2 separate regions of the Homo sapiens genome follow, and region 2 is linked to region 1. Evidence: fine-mapped expression QTL. A gene starts in region 1. The other region holds a variant in brackets. All regions are shown on one strand. Distances are from middle to middle.

Region 1 (10,911 bases):
GGGACATGCTGAGCTCGACTGTGCCTTGGGGACTTTGGGGTGGCCCCACCATCACCCTAGTGTAGAAATGAGGCCACAGAGGCCGAGTCCCTCCAGGGATGGGGCTAGAACCTGCCTCCAGGGCTCTGTCCTCCATGCCACCCCAGCACAAAGCAGGCCCCAAGTACACAGCCTGGGTCAGGCCGCAACACCGTGTGGGCTGGGGTGGGAGACGGAGACGCGGGTGAGCCCCAAGTGACAGGCATGCCCCTGGCCAGCTGCTGGCCAAGCCCAGGGCTGGAAGAGCGGCTGCCCCCAGACACGTGAGGGGCGCCCTGTTGTCGCCGGCTCAACCACAGGCGCGTCCGCTGCGAGCCAGCGGTGAGGGGTGGCGGCCAAGAGGCTTGGGAAAGCCGAGGCTGCATCATCAGAGGTAGATTGGCCGGAAGGTGGGAGCAGTTTTCGCTGAGCTATGCTAAATGGGATATTCCCGCAGACCTCCTGTCTGGGGTGGCCCGGCCAAGCCGCCCACCCTGGTTTCTGGGCACCACGTGTTTGCAAGGACATTGACAAATGGCATCTGTCCGAGCCAGAGGCTCTCTGGTTTGGGGAAGGAGGGAGTCCTGGGGGCTGCCGCTGGTGGGGGCTGGCTCTGCCAAGGCAAGAACAGAGCTGCTGGAGGGGTGGGGGCGGAAGGAGCCTGCTTAGGACTGCTCTCAGCTACCGGCCTCCTCTGGATGACGGGACTGCAGGAACCACGAGAACCCCAGTTCTAGCTCCCAGGGTGGGCAGGCTGCTTGGCAGGCAGGCCGCCTTCCCTCCACCAGGAGTCAGGTCTCCAGCCAGAGGTCCTGACCCAGGGCACAAGTGCTCGCACTGGGAAGCAGGCCTCTGAGGCAGGACGTCTTCTCCTGTGGTGGAGTGGGGGTGTGGGCAGGGCAGGGAGGCCAGCAGAGAGAGGCTCGGGGAGCAGGCTCTGTGGGCTTGCAGGAGGCAGGTCTGTGGCCCCTCCCTGGACCCTAGCCTAATGCCCCCTGCACCCCATGCCTATGTTCCAGCTTCCTGGGTCTGCAGGTCCAGCCGGCTGGCACCCTCCATGTACCCAGGGGAGATTCCAGCCAGACACCCGCCCCCCGGCCCTGGCTAAGAAGTTGCTTCCTGTTGCCAGCATGACCTACCCTCGCCTCTTTGATGCCATCCGCTGCCACCTCCTTTTGCTCCTGGACCCTTTAGCCTCTCTGCCCTTCCACTCTCTGACCACCGCCCCCGCCCTCCCCACCCAGCTCCGCTTCTTGTTACTTGGGGGAGGAAAGAAACTCCTGATCATTGGCCAAAGGGACTTACCCCTGGAGAGGCCAAGTGCCTTCTAGGAAGTTAGGAGGTTGAGGCACAGCCTGTGCAGAGAGGGTGGGTCACCCCCCCAGATCCAAGGAGAAACTGCAGGTCAAGGGCTGATAACGGCCATGCAGGATGCTTGATGCTGCGTCCCCCGCTGCTTGCCGCCCCCCACCCCGCCATTTTGTATAATAAAGCTCCCTGTGTATTCTCATGTGCTGGCTGTCTTGTACTCACTAAGGGGGCAGGGCTGGCCAGGATGGAAATGTTGGGCCAGTGGCCAGCCCATTCCCACACTGCACAGCATGCTGTGGCCTCTGGGTTCAGGCAGTCTGACCTGTCTCATGGCCTTTGCAGTATAAGACGCCAGGACATAAGCTCTCTGGTGGCCTAAGTCAGAGCACACACAATGGGTGGGGTCCGGGCTTCCTTTTCCAGAATGTCTGTGATATCCCTACCCCAACCAGGACTAGCCCAATATAAACTTCTGTGCCTTGACTTCGCACCCACTGAGGGCAAGATCCACCTCGGGGCCTCCCCCAACACCACACAGGAGGTGCTCAGTGAAGGTTTGGAAAACAGACAAATGGGTGGATGGGTGGGTGGATGGATGGATGGGTAGGTGGGTGGACGAATGGATAGATGAATAGATTAATGGATGGATGAGTGGATGGATAGGTGGGTGAATGGATGGGTAGGTGGGCGAGTGGATGAATGGCTGGGTGGGCAAGTGGGTGGATGGATGGATGGGTAGGTGGGTGGACGAATGGATAGATGATCAGATGAATGGATGGATGAGTGGACAGATAGGTGGGTGAATGGATGGGTAGGTGGGTGAGTGGATGAATGGCTGGATGAGCGAGTGGAGGGATGGGTGAGTGGATGAATAGGGGATGGATGAATGGATAGAGGGATATGTGGATGAGTGAATGAGTAAGTGGGTGGGTGGGTGGATGGATGGATTGATGGATGGATGAGTGGACGGATAAGCAGGTGAATGGATGGGTAGGTGGGTGAGTGGATGAATGGTTGGGTGGGTGAGTGGAGGGATGGGTGAGTGGATGAATAGGGGATGGATGAATGGATAGACGGACATATGGATGAGTGAATGAGTAAGTGGGTGGGTGGGTGGATGGATGGATTGATAGATGGATGGATGAGTGGACGGATAAGCAGGTGAATGGATGGGTAGGTGGGTGAGTGGATGAATGGTTGGGTGGGTGAGTGGAGGGATGGGTGAGTGGATGAATAGGGGATGGATGAATGGATAGAGGGATGTATGGATGAGTGAATGGGTAAGCAGGTGGGTGGATGGATGGACTAATGGATGGATGAGTGGGTGAATAGGTGGGTGAATGGATGGGTGGGTGGGAGGATGGCTGGCTGGCTGGCTGGCTGGCTGGATGGATGGATGGATGGGTTAGTGAATGGATAGGTGGATGGATGAAAGGAGGGATGCATGAGTGGATAGGTAGATGAGTGGATGGATGGATGAAGGGATGGCTGGATGAATGGACAGAGGGAGAGAGGGGGGATGGAGGGAGGGATGAGTGAGTGAATGGGTAGGTGGGTGGGTGGATGGATGGATGGAAGGAGCGATAAATGAAGGGATGGGTAGGTGGTTGGATGGATGGATAGATAGATAATGGAGGGATTGATGAATGAAGGGATGGATGCATGGATGGGTAGATGGATGGATGGATGAAGGGATGGATGAGAGTGGATGGACAGGTGGATGGATGGATAGGTGGATGGATGAATGGAGGGATGGATGTGTGGATGGGTAGATGAAAGGATGGATGAAAGGACGGATAGATAGATAGGTGAGTGAGTGAATGGATAGGTGGATGGATGAATGGAGAGATGGATGAGTGGATGGGTAGATGGGTGGGTGGATGGATGGGTGAAGGGATAGATGAATGGATGGACAGAGAGCGGGAAGGATGGATGGAGGAAGGGATGAATGAGTGGATGGGTAGGTGGGTGGGTGGATGGCTGGAGTGTGGGAGTGTGTGTGTGTGTGTGTGTGATAGGGCCTCACTCTGTTTCCCGGGCTGGGAGTGTGTGTGTGTTTGTGTGTATGTGTGTGTGTGACAAGTTCTCTGTTTCCCAGGCTGGAATGTGTGTGTGTGTGTGTCAGAGCCTCACTCTGTTTCCCAGGCTGGGAGTGTGGGAGTGTGTGTGTGTGTGTGTGTGTGTGTGTGTCAGAGCCTCACTCTGTTTCCCAGGCTGGGAGTGCAGTGGCACAATGAGAGCTCCTTGCAGCCTCAACCTCCTGGGCTCAACGGATCCTCCTGCTTCAGCCTCCCAAGTAGCTGGGACCGCAGGTGCCCACCACCACACCTGGCTAAGTTTTTGATTTTTTTTGTAGAGACGAGGTCTTGCTATGTTGCCCAGGCTGGCTTCAAACTCTTGGGCTCAAGCGACCCCCCCTGCCTCCACCTCCCAGAGTGCTGGGATTACAGGCATGAGCCCTGCACCCAAGGGTTTGTGCTTTTTTACAGTGTTACATAAATGGCATCCTGCAGCACGCACGCACTCCTTGTCTGACTTCTGTCACGTAGCATAACTATTCTGAGATCCATGCTTGCTGCTGTGTCTGTTGTAAACACTCATTTTTATTGCCACAGCATGGGTACACCCCAACCCGCTCATCTGTTCGTCTCTTGGTGGACATCAGGGTGGTTTCCAGTTTTGAATGATGGAAAGTAATGTGGCCATTTACATTCACACACAGGTTTTCAGAAGGACATACATTTCCTTTACTCTTGGGGAGAGGCCTAGAAATAAAACGACTAGATGCCGTGGGAGGTGTGTGTGAAACTTGTTCAGAAACGGCCTAGCTCTCATTTCTTGTTGCAGTTGGAATGGTTCATCTCGCTGACTTTGGCCCTTCCTAGACGTGGAGGGTGCGGTCTGTGATTTTGGCTTGCGTGTCTCCCGGCACCAGGGGTGCCGTGCAGCTTTGCACGTGCTACTTCACCACTGATACATCTTGCTGGGGGAAGCATCTGTTCAGATCTTTTGCCCGTTGCTGTAAAATTGGGTTATTTGTTTTCCTATTGTTGAGTTTGAGAGTTCTTTCTTTCTTTTTTTTTTTGAGATGGAGTTTTGCTCTTGTTGCCCAGGCTGGAGTGCAGTGGCGCCATCTTGGCCCACTGCAACCTCCGTCTCCTGGGTTCAAGCGATTCTCCTGCCTCAGCCTCCCAGGTAGCTGGAACTACAGGCATTTGCCACCACGCCGGGCTAATTTTTGTATTTTTAGTAGAGGTGGGGTTTCACCATGTTGTTCAGGCTGGTCTCGAATTCCTGACCTCAAGTGATCCGCCTGCCTTAGCCTCCCAAAGTGCTGGGATTACAGGCGTGAGCCACCGTGAGAGTTCTTTGTATATATTCTGAATCAATCCTTGATGAAATAGATTTGCAAAGATTTTTCTCCTGGTTGGTGGCCTTGTCCTCTCACCGTTAACCATCTGAAGAGCAAATTTTAAACATTTTTGATGAATTTCAGTTTGTCAATTTGTTCTTTTAGGAATTGTGCTTTTGGTATCATGTCTGAGAAATCTTTGCCTTATCCAGAGCCATAAAGATTTTCTCCTGTGTTTTTATGGCTCCAGCTTTACATTTAGACCCACGATCCTTTTTGAGTTAATGTTTGTGTATAGTGTGAGGTACGAATGCAAATTATTCTTCTTTTTCTTTTTGCATATGGAGATCCAGTTGTTCCAGAATATGAAATTGCTGCAGCATGGTTTCTTGAAGAAGCTACAGTTGTGCACCGAGTCGCCTTTGCACCTTTGTCAAAAGTCTGAACTGTGCATGGTGGTGGGTGCCTGCGGTCCCAGCTACTTGGGCGGCTGAGGTGGGAGGATCCCTAGAGCCTGGGAATTTGAGGCTGCAGCGAGCAGAGATTGCACCACTGCACTCCAGCCTGGGCAACAGAGTGAGACCCTGCCTGAAAAAAAGTCATCAGTCTGTGTGTGTAAGCTGATTTCTGGACCGTTTTCTTTTGGATCTACTTGAATATTTTTACACCAGTATCACTCAAGTTTTGCTTACACTGGTCTTATATGAATTCTTAGAATGTTAGCTCTTCAATTGTGTTCTTTTTCCGGATTGTTTTAGCTCTTCTCCTCCTCTGCTTTTCCATATGTGTTTTAGAATGGACCTGTGAATTTCTATAAATGCAGGGAGAGTTGACATCTTAACAGTATTGAACTTACTAATCCACGAACCTTGGATGTCCCTATTTATTCAGGTCTTCTTCCACTTCTTCCAAGGATTTTTTACTCTTTCAATTTGGAGGTCTTTCACATCTTTTGTCAGATTGACCTCTAAGTATTGTCTATTTTTATACAGTTAGGAAGTGGTATTTTTAATGTCAATATCTGATAGTTGATTACCATTTTATAGAAACACAATGGACTTTGTATATCAGTCTTGTTATTCCACAACCTTGTTAATCTCACTGAGTAGTTCTTGCAGGTTTTTCTTTTGTTGTTGATTCCATCGGGTTAGATGGTCACGTTATCTGTAGATAAGATTGTTTTCTTTTTCCTTTCTCGTCTGTATGGCTTTTATTTCTTTTGGGGGCCTAATTGCACGAGCAGGAACCTCCAGGTCAATGTTGGACGGAGGTGATGAGGGCGGACATCCCAGCCTCCTTTCTGTTCTTAGTGAGAAACTGTTCAGTCTTCCGCCATCGGTTGTGGGGTTTTCATAGATATCCTGTATTAGGTTAGGGAAGTTCCCTCTATTCCTAATTTACTGAGTGATGTTTTTTAAACAAATCAGGAACCGACGTTGGATTTTTCAAATGCTTTTTCTGTACTGTTAAAAGAAAAACCTTAGACAAATTAAATTTAACAGAGTTTAATTAAGCAAAGAACCACTCGCTAATGGGGCAGCCCCCAAACCAAAATAGGTTCAGAGAGGCTCTGGTGCTGCCGTGTGGCTGAAGATTGGTGGACAGAAAAGGGAAAGGAGGCACAGAAAACGGAAGCAAAGCACAGAAACCGCCAGAGGGGCTGCAGCTCCATGCTTGCCTTATCTGAACACGGTTGGAATGGCCGGCACCCTTGATGAGCGGAAACCTGGTGAGTGGCACAAGGGAAGGCTTCAGTCTGTTTACGTCTCCAGTGAGGTTTCAGTTCACAGTGGATGGAGAAGGCGGAACATAAACTATGTCAGGAGGCAGCTTTACGCCAAGCTTAATTTAACGATTTCCCCCTTTAGACATTGGTGTCCCTGTCGCCATTGTAAATGTACTTGTTTGGTCCCAAGCCCCACTGGGAAATAGCAGAACAATGGGTTTCGTAAGTGGGAACGAGGACCTCGGGTTATATATTTTTGTAAGGGATAGAGAGGAACCTCCTTGTGCTGGAATTTCATGTGCTCAGAAAAACAAACCCTGGTCTGCCTTAGGACCTATCTGCTTCCGTAAAGCTTCGGTTTGATGGTGTTGCGTTTAGCTTGCGTGACTCCATCTGGGTTTGGTCTGGTCCGTTGGGGCCTCTTGCGGGAGCTCAGTCCAAAACAATGGCCTCTTATAATTTTGTTTAAAAATTCCCTGCCTTTGGTCAGGTTCTCATTTAGTGGAAAGTGTAGCCAAGCCTTAGGGCCTTGGCACCACCCTCAGTCACCGCCACTTCCAGCTTCCGGTCACAGAATGTCATTCGTACCTAGGTTACGACATCCTCATGGCCTTGTGTTTCTTTGAGTTCTTGTTGCTCCAGTCAAAGAGACACCATTTAGCATCCTACAGATGGCTGCATGCAAACATTTAAAACTCCGGAGAGAATGCAGAGCGCCAGGGAGACGAGTATTATGACCATCAGGAAGATCATATTTAATACCAAGAATGTGAAGCATGCTCCTTAGGTGGGGTCCCATGAAGCAAACCAACGAAAATCAAATAGATCAGAGAGTTAGCTGGATAAAGAGTCTACTCATTTCAAACAAGCAGCCTGTTTGTTAATCCCCTACAACCGAACCTTTCTAATACCTGATACATTCCTCCATGTGCCACAAGAAGCATCGGCAACGGCACAGACGCTCCTCTGTTTAGCTAGTAAGGGATCCAGAGCAAGTCTATCATCCCACACACCTTTAGCAAGAGAATTTAAAGACTGTTGTGTAACCATAGCCTTTGGAGTAGAATCTGTTCCAGAGCCAATTACGAGGGATACTTTTTTTTTTTTTTTGAGACCGAGTCTCGCTCCGTCGGCTGGAGTGCAGCGGCGCCAGCCATGTCTCGGCTCACTGCAACCTCCACCTCCTGGGTTCAAGCGATTCTCCTGCCTCAGCCTCACGATTAGTTGAGATTACAGGCGCCCGCCATCATACCCAGCTTATTTTTAATATTTTTAGTAGAGATAGGGTTTTGCCGTGTTGGCCAGGATGGTCTTGATCTCTTGACGTTGTGATCCACCCACCTCGGCCTCCCAAAGTGCTGGGATTACAGGCGTGAGCCACCACGCCCAGCAGAGGGATACATTTTAAATCTTTGCCTCATTTACTCCAAACCATGGAAAAAGAGGCCTCACAAACAGTGCCCATCTAGAAGAGTGAAGCTCCTGCCAGAGTTCTCTTTAAGCTGTGATGTAGAGGAGTGGAGCGATGTTGTTTGTGATTGATTGGGAAGCAACAAAGGCACCCTCAACATTTTTCACCCAGACCGGGCACAGGGGCTCACGCCTGTAATCCCAACACTTTGGGAGGCCGAGGTGGGCACTTGAGGTCAGGAGTTCGAGACCAGCCTGGTCAACATGGTGAAACCCTGTCTCTACTAAAAATACAAAAATTAGCTGGGCTTGGTGGTAGGTGCCTGTAATCCCAGCTACTTGGGAGGCTGAGGCAGGAGAATCGCTTGAACCTGGGAGGCAAAGGTTGCTGTGAGCTGAGATCACACCACTGCATTCCAGCTTGGGCAACAGAGTGAGACTTGGAGTGAGCTAATTTTTTTTTTCACCTACATTGGCCCTTCGTCTTCCAACTGTCAAGGCAAAAGGTTGTCCACATATAGGATTGGCTGCAAAATCCTCCACAAATAAAAGTATACCCCATGAGTGCACATAAGAGATCCCTTTTTAGTTCTATTATTCAGAGGCATGACAGTCTCAAGTTCTTGGGAAAAAGCTGTCCATATCTGGGATGCCAGCTGCTTCTGGGGAGAAACTTCCCTGATTAGCTTTACCTTAAAATCTCCAATGGGGCTGCAGTTGCTGGAGTCTGGCGATGCCCTCTTGAGCGGTGAGATAACGAACCCAGGGTTCAAAGTCCTAGAATTTCACTGCAGTGTGGGTGGCAAGGGCAGTCTTTCTGTGATACTCTCAGAAAACCAAATGTCTGGGTTCTAGATTGTGAAGCGTTTGATAGGGTCCTCAGTGGACCATGAAAAGCTTTCTGTACCTGGTGAAAATATACTTAGGCATAATGCATTAAGGCCTAGGAGCCTTTAGCCATATCGGAGTTGAGGAGTGGAAGATACATGAGGTTCTATATAGGACTTCCAGGGACTATTTCATAAGGCACCAACTTATGTTTTCCACTGGAAATGGACCCGACGGCCATCCACCTGCAACACCCTTGACCAAGGCAGCCCAGTTCATTCATTTCCCTTGCTTAATATTATTGTATCTGTAACAAGTTATTAACAGTTTTACCACTTGAGCAGTGAAACAAGTACATCTATCATGGGAGATTTCTCAAGGGACGTCCCATGAGAAAAACAATTTTCTAATAATCTTTTAGCTACTGCTATAACATCAGTGCTCTTGCCTGGGAAAGCTTCTATATAACCAGAAAACACGCATTGAAAATGACAATTGAAGGAAATCCCTCCAGCAATGTTTCAATGGCCCATCAAGTAGCAGAAGTGTAATGGAAGTTTCGATTGTCCTCCCAGGATTATGGGTTTGGCAGACCAAACATTGGTCGTAAACCATTTTAACAACTTACAACGGTCACCATGTCAAATATATATATGTATATTATATATACATATATATATAAAATTTGGATTAATTTGTCTCTTCCATGATGAATCATGGAGTGCAGAGCATTTAATAGTGGAAGCTTCAAGGACACAGGAAGGACCAGGTGGCCATCTTGGCTGTCCATGTGTCCATGCTTGATGCTGGACTTATATCTTCTTAAATACCAATTTTGTTTCTCCAGTTCAGGTGCATAGCACTGTTTATTAGAAGGGTTATCATAGGTAATTTGACTTGGACGATGGATTTAATTCAAATTGGGTATCTAAACAATATCAGTACTGGCTGATTTAGCATGAAAAGCTGGCAAAGTGTTTTCTTGGTATTCAATTAATTTTTGTCCTGCCCAGGTTAGCAATTTTATAAACCAGTCAATCTTTCCATTAGAGTTCCGGGAATTTTTACCCAGTCCAAATGACATTACACTAAAGTTATCAGAAGCCTATTCAAGAGGGCTTATCAGGGTCCTTTCTCTCCTTTCACGAACCTCCTGGAGGACTCAATATTGTAGGACTGTGTGTGTTTGTGAGTTTTCAGAAACGTCAGAAAAAAGCAATTAACTCTGGAAATGACGTAAAATGGTCATGGTTAAAGAAGAACTGACAAGGAATTTTGATTACTTCTGTGGCCTACAATAACTTAACTGTAATTAAGAGTGACAGCATATACCCGGATGTATCAGAATTTTAGGAACCCCATACAATTTTGGAGCATATATTAATGACGTATTCACAAACAATATCTCAAATAAGGTTAAACATCATTTCTTATTTGGCAGTGCTTCCCATGTAATTTAATTTATCAAATACTTCTGTCTCTCTCTTTTTTGGATACTATAGGGGCCCTTAGTAGCTCTCTCCACTGGGAAAGGCTGTTATCGTCTTTGTTTTAAACTATAAACTAAGTTTCTCCCAAAGTTAGTTCAGCCTACTCCCAGGAATAAGCAAGGACAGGAATAAGCAAGGAGGTTAGAAGCAAGATGGAAGGGCCAGGCACGGTGGCTTACGCCTGTAACCCCATCACTTTGGGAGGCCGAGGTGAGCAGATCACAAGGTCAGGAGTTCCAGACCAGCCTGGCCAATATGGTGAAACCTCATCTCTACTAAAAAAAATACAAAATTAGTCGGGCGTTGTGGCAGATGCCTGTAATCCCAGTTACTTGGGAGGCTGAGGCAGGAGAATCGCTTGAACCCAGGAGGCAGAGGTTGTGGTGAGCCAAGTTTACGCCATTGCACTCCAGCCTGGGCGACAAGAGCAAAACACCACCTCTAAAAAAAAAAAAAGGCAAGATGGAGTCAATTAAGTTAGATGTCTCTCACCGTCTCAGTCAAAGAGACAATGCAAAGGTGGTTTCAGCTTTTTCCTAAATATTATCAGATACATGTCATACAGAGAGACATATAGTCATAACAGACACAGATAGAAACAGATCTTACAGATTTCAGAAAGAATTTTCATTTGCCAGCTTTCAAATAGTTTTCTTTTCCCCCTTTAGACTATCAATCTTCTAATTACTTGTTTTATCATCCTAAGCAATCGTTAGCTAGGGAACAATTTGCCTTCAAAAAAGATAACTCTTAGGTGAAACAAGGCAGAAAATGTA
Region 2 (10,911 bases), 60 kb after region 1:
CCACCTTGGCAGGCCCATGTGAGAAAGGGGCTGTGGGGACCTCTGTGTCCTTGGGTGGTGACCTGCTGATAGCTACCCCGTTTCCCGCCCACCCCTGTTGTGAGTGGACACGCGGGGGTCTGCAGGGTTAGCTACCCTGTTTCCCGCCCACCCCTGTTGTGAGTGGACACGCGGGGGTCTGCAGGGTTAGCTACCCTGTTTCCCGCCCACCACTGTTGGGAGTGGACACGCGGGGGTCTGCAGGGTTAGCTACCCCGTTTCCCGCCCACCACTGTTGGGAGTGGACACTCAGGGATCCGCAGTGTTAGCTACCCCCTTTTCTGCCCACCCTGTTGTGAGTGGACACTCGGAGGTCTGCAGGGTTGGTGTGTCGGGCTGCCTTGGCCTAAGTGTGTGACATGGACCCAATCTCTTCTGTACAGGTACCCCCTGTACCGGCTGGGTGGCCCACAACTTCGGGTGTTCCGAACCAACTTCTTCATTCAGCTGGTGCGGCCCGGTGTGGCCCAGCCCGAGGACACCGTGCAGTTCCGGATCCCCATGGAGTGAGTCCGGGAGGATTCCGGCTGGGGTTGGGGAGCACCCTCGGGGGGATCCCCGTGGAGTGAGCCCGGAAGTTTTCCCGCTGGGTTGGGAGAGTGCCCTCAGGGGGGCCTGGGTCCTGAGTTAAAACAACTCTGCTCACGTGCTAGCCTCTTCCTGCTGGGAAGGCACCTCAGGCGGCCCTGCCCGGCAAGTATTGATGGAGTGCCTGTAGGTGTGGAGCCCGGCAGGCAGGCTGCACGCCGCCCTCCACCCGGGGACGGCTTCACTGGAAGCCTTAAAATTTGGACCTCTGTGCTCGCGTCTTCTGTTGAGTTCTTGCAGCTTCTTTTTAGGAGAGGCGCCCTGAGAGGCTGGGTTGGGAGCAGGCCGTGATGTACAGAACCGCTCAGAAGAGCCTGCTTGACCTTCAGAGAAATGCACAGTCCCTACGAGCAAAACTGGGGTGCTGCTCTGCAGTGTTTAAGTTCACAGGTCCCCAGCTCAGGGTTGATGCGAGCCAGGCGGGGCAGCAGCGTGAGCTCCCCTGGGGGCGAAGGTCAGGCCTGTGCAGCCTGCAGGGGCCCAGAAGCTGAGTTGACAGTGACCGTGAGGTTCTGCAGTAGAGGGAACTTGCAGTTAACGCACCGAATGCCAGGCAGGCCTTTCCAGAAGGTACTTCCTAGAACCGCATCAGTCCCATCAGCCGCAGAGCAGGCCTAACCCTGATGCGGCCACTGGGCCCCGGGGCAGACGAGGTGGGGCACCTGCCAGCCAGGAGCGTGCAGAGACTGTCACCTCCTCTCACAGGCACTTGCCCGGAGCAGGGAGCCATGTGGGGCTGTGGAGCAGGCCAGGGGTTGGTTGGGCAGTGCTCCCACTCTGTGGGGTCTGTGCCACTGCCACCCCATGCTGGTGTGCCCAGAGTAGGGAGTCTTGCAGCCAGCAGCACTGGTGTTGCTGGGGCTGCCTGGCCTCACTAGTGCCGCTGATGTACCCAGCCCTCCTCCCTGCCCCCTGTGGGTCTTGGTCTGTCGGCCTCTCAGCCTCGGGTGCTTGTGCATCTGGGACAGTATTTTTGGCTTTTAGCCTGGTTAAGATGCCGTTTTCTTTCTCCTTCGCCTCCAGAATGACAAGGGTGGACCTCAGGAATTACCTCGAGGGCATCTATAACGTGCCCGTGGCTGCTGTGCGGACACGGGTGCAGCATGGTGAGTGCCCATGGGAGGTTCTCCTGTTGGTGTCGTGCCCATCTGTGCCACATGCCCACCTCGCCGAGCCACAGCCTCAGCTACTGCATGGGGGTCTTGGTCTGACGTGGCTCATGGGAAACTGAGGCACAGGGTGACTTGTCAGGGTCACACGGTGCTTACGTGCCAGAGCAGGGATTGGAATTCAACTGGGCTGGCCCGGGGTCCATTCTGAGCCCTGACTCCTGCCGTCAGCCCCCGAGGTGGGACTGCAGTGGCTGAGGCTGGGGAGCAAAGCGCTGTCTGTTCCATAAGCCCCTGTCGTGTGCCCTGGCTGGTGCCACGTCCGCTCCTTTGTTGAGAACCTGCTGGCCTCTGTTGGGAGAAGGGAGGAGCCTGGGAGCCTGCTGTGCTGGCTCGTTTGATTACAGTGCCCATTTCCCTGAGAAATCGCCTTTTTGAGTTTTTAAAAACATATTTACATTTTTAAGAGAGCAGAGGTTCGTTTTAGTGGCATTGACCTCTGAGGATGTAATTTTTTAAAGTTCTGATTTTTTTAAAGTTCTGATTTTTTTTTCACTCCCTTCCGGCAGGCTCTAACAAGAGAAGAGATCACAGAAACGTGAGGATCAAGAAGCCGGACTACAAGGTCGCCTACGTGCAGCTGGTGCGTGTGAGCTGGCCAGCCCCAGCGGGGCCTCCGAGGGGCTCCTCGCAACTGTGTCCTTGGGGATGTTTGTGCCGGAGACGCTGCGCTGGGGCCCAGGGAGCCCCCGTGAGGCCGGATCTCAGGGCCTCAGCGCAGAGGCAGGCTCCACATAAGGTCATGCTCCGTCACGGCCTTGGGGGTGTTAGTGGTGGCGCTGGGAGCACGTGAGCACTGGGGCACATGGGGCACGTCTCAGCGTCCGGCCGTTTTGTGATTTTGAAGTTTGAATTCTCTGTGGGCAAAGGCAGCCATCACAGGCCTAGTGGGTTTCAACTCCAACGCACACCAGGGTGTCAGAGCATGGGAGGCCCCGGCCTCTGGAGAGCCTGTCCTTGGCTGGGTTTCAGCCTCGGAGGCAGAGTGTGAGGCCCCTGAGGGCAAAGGTCTTTGGTGCCAAGGCAGGTCTGGCTGGCCGGGCTGTTGGCTGAGGCCCATGTCCTGCATTGCAGGGTAGCAGGTCCCACGTACTTGTTAGGGCTCAGCAGGCTGCTTCTGAGCAGGTGCTTTCTTACGTATCCTGGGGGGCTCTGGGGAGGAAGAACCCTCACCCCACGTTGCCTGGGCCTTCAGTTTCTGAAACCCAGACTTGTCAGGAGTGAGACCCACAGTTTCAAAGCCTTTCTTTGGGCTCTTCATTTTGAGTCCCAGGCAAACCCAGAGGCACTTTCTCTCTGGGCCAAGATGTCCACAGCCTGCCCCGGCCGCCTCCTGGGCCTCCCCACTCTGCCCCTGGGGCTGGCCTTACTGGGTGGGGATGGGGTTGTCTTCCGGTGTAAATGGTCCCTGGAGGCCGAGCCGGCGGGCCCTGCCACTAGATGGCAGTCACACGATGGTGGAAACCGCCTCCTGGGCCAGCCGGCCTGTTGTGGGGCTAAGGAGGCAGTTTGTGAAAAAGGCCAAGTTAGCATGGCAGCTTTTCTGAAAAACAGTCACATTTGTTGTTCTAAACAGGGGCCCCCGGAATAATTTGGCCTGATATTTGCTGTGCATGAAATCAGCCAATCCAGGTGGGGAGAGCAGCCGTTGGCCTCATAAAGGCCTCTGTGTGCTCAGTGTCAGTCGGGCCCATCTGTCTTTGTCATGGCATGTGGGTGGACATCCCGTGTGCCGGCACCGCCACGGGCACTTCAGAGGCAGCTACGGTTACAAGTGGCATTCAAGTCATCCGAGCCCTTGCGTTCTTCCTCTGGGCCCCACCTCCCATGAAAACTGAACCCAGCAGCTCCGGGATCCGGTGTCTGCAGCTGCTGCCCGCGTGTTGTTCTCCCTCTGTGAAGTCCAGGCAGCCAGAGACAGGGCAGGGCAACTGGGAGCCTGAAGGGTCCCAGTTGGGCATGGATCCTCCTGTTCCAGAATGAAAATTTGTAACGGGTCCTCACCCCCCTTCCTGAACTCCAGCACATCTTTGCACAGCCTAGAAATGGGCCGTGGCCGTTGGTCCCTGTCTGCCCGCAGAGGGGACTCTCAAGGCCCTTTCCTGTCTCGTGTCTGCTGAGACCTTGCTCAGCGTGTCCCCCTGGGCCCTGCGCCAGGGCTTAGAATCACTGCTAATTGCAAAGCCCAGGGAGGGAGCATTGGAAAGGTAAAATTATCCACGTTATTTGGAGTTGGCCGCTGTGGAAAGGCCCTGTCCCACGTGGCGGGAGTCCCACATTTCTTTCTCCGACAACCTGATAAGCATCTCCTTGGCCCAAAGTCCTGGGAGCTGAAAGCAGCGCCTCAGTGACCCACACAACAAAAAGACCATTGACTGCCCGCTGCCCCGAGGCTTGTGTGGATGCTGAGCAGCGCGGGAATGAAGGGCGCGCAGGAATGAAGGGCGCACGACATGAGAGGCAACTCCAGAACAAACCGCTGCCGCCAGCTGGGCCGAGCTCCGTGCTCGGGGCTCCGGCCTCCAGGTCCAGGCAGGCGGCAGCCCCCAGGGCGCCCTGGGATTCCTGAAGGCAGGGCTGCCTTGTTTACTTGTCATTGGGACATTTTTCTCCATTCCTGTTCTTTACCCCGATCAGCTGTCTCTCTCCTTTTTGGAAGGATCAAGGGCTTTTTTTTTTTAGGTACAAGGTGAACTCTTCTAGAAAGGGGAAGCCCCTGGGAAACCATGCTTGGCATCCCCAAACGGTGTTTGTCTCCTGTAAGAAACGGATTTTCTCTCAGCACCTTTCCCCATTTCTTCCCGAAGCTGTGACAAATGGCCATGTTTGTGCTTTAAACTGTCATTTTGGGTTCCCCTTGCCTCGGAAAACTAGCAGAATCACCTCCATATAGTCAAGGTGAATCTCCCATTCTGGGCAGTCAGCCTCACGTGTAAACGACTGCCCCTTGGTATTTTAAAAGACGCAAAGTTCAGAGCTGTGTAAGGCAATCCTCCTGCAGGCCGGCTACGGCGCACGCAGTGCCACTCTCCCCGCCAGCCCCTGCGCTCTGCGCCAGGGATCAGGGTGCATACACCTCCCTCGCAGGGTGGGATCTGGGCCTGTTTCAGATCATACTTGGCTGCCTGCCCACATCCAGATTTATTTACACACAAAGGGTCTGCAAGAGCCAAGTGTACCTGACTGATTTTACTCACTAAAGGGTTCCAGATTCGGGTGCCATCCTCACTCCTCCTCCCTCTTCTCTTCCCTCTCCTCTGGTCTGCTCTTTCTGCCTCTTAGCTTTGGAGCACTTAGTAATCATTAGCAAGTTAAGATGGCTTCTTGTATTTGCTTAGGTCCCCAAGGAGCAGTATCCCCTCCTTCTCGTGAACCCGAGCCACATGCTGTGGCCTGGGCTGGGGCTTGGCTGACACGGACATATTCTGAACTCTCAGCAGAAGATGTAAGACCAGTTAATTGGCAGAGCCGGTCCTGATTTATCAACTGCCGCACGTGCATGTTTCTTCGTACGTGATGTTCACTTTAATTGCCAGGCTCTGGGCTGGGAGGAGGGGGAGCTTTAATGTGAGTAGAGCCTGAGGCATTTTGGATGGACAGGTTCAGCATGGTACCAGACGTGATTTGTGTCATGTTTTTCCATGCCTTGTTTCTGCCCCCCACCAACCAGGTGGCCCCGTGCTAGTAAATGGGTGCACCCAGGGCGGGGGCAGACACCAGGCCCTAAAGAGACAATG[G/A]TGGGGAAAGCGGCCCTGTCCTGGAGCTGTGGCCTCTGCTGCAGCGTGACAGCCGGGGGCCGGTGGCCGTGGGGGTGCTTACATTCCAGGCAGGGACGCTGCCCCAGGAGGCCCAGGGAGGTACCTCTGAGCAGTTGAATCCGGCGCCGGCAGAAAGGGGCTGCCAGAAAGCATGAGGCTCCCCCACAGACCCCTCTGCTGAGGAGTCTTTGCAGCTCTGGCTGGAGCCTTTGTTCTCCCCCTTAGGCCCATGGACAGACCTTCACGTTCCCAGATCTGTTTCCCGAGAAAGACGAGAGCCCTGAAGGCAGCGCTGCCGACGACCTCTACAGCATGCTCGAGGAGGAGAGGCAGCAGAGGCAGAGCAGCGACCCGCGGCGGGGCGGCGTCCCCAGCTGGTTCGGGCTGTGACGGGGTGGCCAGCAGGGACGCGCCCCAGGTGGGCAGCTGTGGCAGAGCAGCGACCCGCGGCGGGGCGGCATCCCCAGCTGGTTCGGGCCGTGACGGGGCGGCCAGCAGGGACGCGCCCCAGGTGGGCAGCTGTGGCAGAGCAGTCCCGACACCTAAATAAAAGTCTTGCTGCAGGAGAAAGAGCCGGAAGCTCTGCTTCCTTCTTCTCTTGGGTCTCTGGGTGCCAGACACGCAGCAGCCACCCCCCAGCTCTGAGCGCCACGTGGCCTGGCTCCGCTTTCCCAGGGTCTGGGCAGTGGGCGCGGCCGGGGTCTGGTCTCTGAGTTGACGGGGAACTGAGGGTGGGCAGACTTGAGACGTGGCCCCATGCTGGGGAGGCGGGTTGGCCAGAGAGGGCCACACACAGGCTCGGAGCTGCATGCCAGGTGGGGAATGAGACACGCAGGTGAAAAGACCCAGAAGATAGTTCTGAGCGCCCACATTCAGAGCCTGAGCCCAGAGGCGTCGGGAGGAATGGAGGGGTCAGCGTGAGCACGGGGCGGCGCCGGGTGAGAGAACGGCCTGGCCTGGACAGAAGTTCTGGGGAGGGGCTGCCAGGGCAGCAGCCCTCAGGGGGCCTGGTGAGGGAACTCCGGCCCGCCTGTGGGTTTCGGTTTGGCACTGTTGGCAGCAAGAACCCGAGAAGGGCCGGGAAGGGATCCGAGGGCAGCAGTGTCTCAGGAGAGCCATGGCGGAGAGGTGCCGTCGGGCGGAGAGGTGCCGTCGGGCACAGGCCCGGGGCTGGGCCTAGGGGACAGGGAGGACCCAGCCTGGAAAGGTGGTTAGGGCAGGGGGCAAGGTGTGGCCAGCAACCACTGCAAAACAGTTCTGTGGGCTTCTCGGCCCTGGGGGTGGACAGGTCGAGAGAGGAGAGGGTGGGCTTGAGCATCCTGTTGGAGGTGCCCAGTGGCCTCGCAGTGTCTGGGTGGATGCCTGGGTCTAGACCCTTGTTCTGTCGGCCCAGGGCAGGTCAGGACGCACGGCCCCTGCTCTGATTCTTGTCTAAAGGGTTCTGCGTGGAAGCCTGTGGCCCTGCCAGAGGCTCTGTGCTGCCTCTCCTAGCCTGGCCTGGCCTGTGGGAGCAAAAGGGGGTTGCCCGGCCGCCGTTTTTGGGGCCTGAACCTGGCAGACTGGCCTGGGTTCCCGTTCCAGCAAAGCTGGACAGGCCAGCCGGGGCAGCCTCCAGGGGGCCCTGAGCTGGATACAGAATTGATTTTTGGTTTTAATGATGTCTTATTCAGAACCTTCCAAGGAGCCCGGAAGGTTTCCAGCCCCTCTTCCCAGAACCCCTGCATCTGGTGAGGCCCAGGGCCTCCAGAGCCCCTTCTGGCCCCGTCTCCATGCGGCAGCTGGTGCGTCCTCAGGACGGGTTGCAGAGGCCTGGGGGCCCCTCTGTTTTTCTTAGTCTGTCCTTGGTTCCAGTGCTTCCCGAGAAAATCCAACATGGAGGCCAGAGCAAGGCCCCCTCCCTGCTGTGTGCGGGCAGCTCCGGCTTTGGGGTTGGGAATCAAAACCAGGGCCCACGTGTACGTCGGGAGCCATCTGCGCTCCACCCTGACCAGGACGGAGCCGCACTCGGGCGTCTGGGGGAAAGCCCACGGCGCGGCTTTCTTGCACGAAGTTGGGTTTGCCGTGTAAGCCTCCCCATGCGAATGCTCAGAAGAACACAGGTGTCACGTGGCCTTGGGACCAACCCTGATCTGCAGCGTGGGCCTGTTGTGGTCTGAGTGAGGGTCCTGGCTTTTCCTTCTGCTTGGGCAGCCTTCCGAGGGTCTTGCAAGAGGAGATGGCGTGGCAGCTGGCTCAGCCTCCCCTCCCCCAGCCCGGAGTGCAGGCAGGAGGGGGTGTGGCGGGGGAAGTGTTCGGCTAGGGGGTGAAGGCCCGGGCAAGCTCACCCTTCAGTGTTGATTTAAAGGGATGGGGAAGGTCAGGAAGTAGAGCCGGAGAAATGGAGTCAACTGTGTTTTCCTTAGAGAAATAATTCATGGGGCCTAGAGCTCTGAGGACCCTAACTCACGGCAGGGGAAGAGGAATCCCATCCTTCATCCACGGCACGTCCAGCCCCGCACACAGGGGCCGTTAGCAGCCCTGCTGGCGGCCAGCGCACCAGGCACACTCCATCACGGCCGCCACCCCCAGACGCAGCCCTGACTCCGGCTCCAGCCGCCCCGGCCTCCAGATCCTCCTCCCGCCCTGTCTCACCCCGGCCTGTGCTGTCCCGTCGCAGCCCCCATGTCTCCCACAGGCCTCCCTGCCAGGGAGGAGAAAGGGGCTGGGGAGCTACTGCACCCCCATCTCCACAGCACACCAGGGGCTCCCTCACTCCCCAGTCGTCACTGGGCATCCTTCTGCATGGCAGCCCACTGACCCCGGTAAGGGGCTGGCTGAGGGCCGGGCCTTAGGGGAGATAATAGCCTCAGGGGCCTGCCAAGTGCGTGGCCTGGGCCCAGTCCCAGGGGGTGCCCAGATGGAGGCAAGACCAAAATGCGGGGATGAGCACGGGGTGAGGCTGGGCGCATTTCTTGAAGAATGGGGGATAGGGACGGGCGTGTGGCGGTCCAGCGTGAGAAACAGGGCTGCCAGTCCTCGGCGGGGGTGGGTGATTCACACAAGACCCCACTTTCTGGGTCGTTGACTTGACCAATGGTTTCTGGTCTGAGCCGGGTGTCAGAACTGAGGCCCCCGGGTATCTGTCCCAGCCGCGTGTGGCATGACCTAGCCATGTCACTGGGTAGTCTTCCCCAAAGCATCCACACCCACCTCACATGCCTGCTGCAGAGGAGCGCGGAGCAGGCCGGGGTGGGCAGGCGGCCCCACTCAGGGTCTGGAAGGCTTGGCCTCTCCAAGAGCCCTGCGTGCCGCACCCATGGAGCTGAGCTTGGGGTAGCCAACCAGGGCTGTGCGGGGAGGGCCCACAGGAAGGGCCCTGGGTGGAGTGGGATGCTCGGGTTCAGCTGGGGGTCTGCTCCCACCACCTCAGGCACACACACAGCCCACAGAAGGGACCGGCTGGACGCGCCAGCTCCCGTGACCCGCTCCTGCCTGGAGGCTCAGGGAGGGAGGGAGCAGCACCTGGGCAGGTCTGTCTTTTCCCCAGTACGAGGGCCCACTGTCGTGGCGCATGTGCTCACACAGGCTCTTTCATGCATGGGGACCAGAGAGGGTCTCACAGGGCCCCTCCGGCCCGGGCGTCAACCTCACCACCCCCACACCTGGGCAAGACCCCTGTCCAACCCAAACAGGCTGTTCCTGCAGAAGGAACTCGCCCGGAAAGATGCATCTCCCAAGGCTGACAGGACCACTCCCGCCTGTGTCTGGACATCCTCAGCGTGGCAGGAGTGGGAGAGGGACCCTGACCCAAGAGATAGCAAGTGGGCCCGCGGCCTTGCCTCGGTCGCCCCCAACATGACAGCCCTTCCCCTCGTGGACATCTCCAGCTGGGAGCAGGGTCGGGGACAGCCAGAGACAAAGGCAACAGGACGAGGGAGAGAGCCGACAGCGCTGCTCCGTGTCCCCATTCATGTTCATTTATTGCCATGCAGGGGTGATGCAAGGCCCAGGCAGTGCCATGCTGCGTGCATGGGAAGGGGTGGAGGGCCCTCGGGACCGCACCGGGCTGTGCTCATAGCTGGACGGCCCCACTTCTCTATGCTGATGAGTTTATAGCCATGATGGGCCCAGCTCTACGGCCCACAGGAGCCCATGCCCTGGCAGCTCCAGGTAAGAGCCAAGCTGCCGGAATGGAGCAGAAACCCCTCTGTCTTCTGTCCTCCTCCTCCCCAGGTGCCGCACCCTCGGTCCCCTCCTCTCTATCTCCAGCACCGCTCACAGCTCCGCACCCCCAGAATTCCCTGCATTGTCGTCTCTGCGTCTTGGGGCCCTGCAGAGATGCCTGCAGTGCCCTGTGCGTGGTGGCCAGGGCCTGGGCTGCGGTGTACGTGAGTGCCCGTCTCATCTCCCTAACCGGCTAAGAGTTCTTTCAAGGCCAAGAATTCTTCTCTTTGACCATATTTCCACCCCTCCGCCTGCCCTAAGACGCTCTCCATAGTGGACGCTGCACTTTGCCATGGCATGCCGGGTGGACAGGACTGCTGGGGCCCCCGTGTTCCAGCCTCTCCTGCGCCTCCAGATGCCTCCTGAGGGCATCTGGGGCATCTGGTTCTCCTCTTTGGGAGCTGGCAGTGTTCCTGGGGCGGCTTGATAGTGTCCCATCTATGGCATCACTTCCGTACCTGGTGGCAGATGAGCAGCCAGGTGCTGGGGCAGGAGTGGGCTCTTCCTGTCCCTGGCTCCCTGGGCTCCTCCTCTGCCCCATCCTGCCCCCACCCACCTCCTTGGGCCCCTCTGCCTCAAGCCAACACATGCCTCTGCAGTCTAGAACCTGAAGTCACATTCGCGGTTGCCTGTCTGCACTGGGGGTTCCCATCTTCTGGCCTCCAGCAGGGGACGAAGGCCAGGGACACAGCGGTTCCTCCTGGTCCACCCCAGGGCTTAAAGTGAGGACAGGCTGGAGAAGGCCAGCCCCTTGAAGGTAGCTGTAGTGGCTGCCATCTTGGGACTGCCCTCCCACCTCCCACCTTTCCTGCAACCATCAGCCGTATTAGCTGAGTGAACGAGTGAGTGAGTGAGTGCCCGATTCAGGAAGTCAGCTTGGCCAGGTGGGAAAGCCAGGCTGCCATCCTCTTCCTCGGGCTTTGGTGGGTGCTCCTGGCCAGGGCCTGGCTGAGTGGGCAGGTGGCGTGAGCCGAGCACCGCCTGGCATCCCTGCCTGGCCATGGGGGGTCCCCCAGAGCAGGAGGCCTGTGGCTGCAGTGATCTGAGAGAGCACTGGCCTTGGGATGCTCTTTTCTATTTTTAAAAAACAGCTTTATTGAGATGAAGTTCACATACCCTAAAATCCACCCACTCAATGGCTTCTAGTATATTCC

Alleles and levels. Positions count from the first base shown, and alleles are read on the strand shown. Sizes are in standard deviations (SD) of each study's normalised expression.
In carriers of allele G in region 2, the expression in whole blood of the gene that starts at base 6,024 in region 1 tends to be lower than with A alone (large effect, 1.0 SD a copy in Lepik 2017).

Evidence for each region. PIP is the estimated chance that this variant, and not a neighbour inherited with it, causes the effect. A credible set is the group of variants that fine-mapping cannot tell apart.
Region 2: its variant is the best candidate, but not a certain one, in a credible set for the expression of LINC01150 in whole blood (Lepik 2017, PIP 0.71).

The regions. Positions count from the first base shown.
Region 1 is chr11:1,890,736-1,901,646 of GRCh38, forward strand. LINC01150 (long intergenic non-protein coding RNA 1150) reads left to right here and starts at 6,024. Exons shown (of 4, transcript NR_120534.1): 1 at 6,024-6,410. LSP1 (lymphocyte specific protein 1) reads left to right here. Exons shown (of 11, transcript NM_002339.3): 11 at 1,038-1,528. PRR33 (proline rich 33) reads right to left here and starts at 1,160. Exons shown (of 1, transcript NM_001395380.1): 1 at 1-1,160. RefSeq lists an enhancer at 6,085-7,284.
Region 2 is chr11:1,950,477-1,961,387 of GRCh38, forward strand. MRPL23 (mitochondrial ribosomal protein L23) reads left to right here. Exons shown (of 5, transcript NM_021134.4): 2 at 423-545; 3 at 1,651-1,733; 4 at 2,306-2,379; 5 at 5,780-6,124. The coding sequence ends at 5,944. Among named protein-coding and RNA genes, the nearest start is that of SNORD131, 6.6 kb to the left of the region's middle. RefSeq lists an enhancer at 7,563-8,341. The variant G/A (reference allele first, on the strand shown) is at 5,534.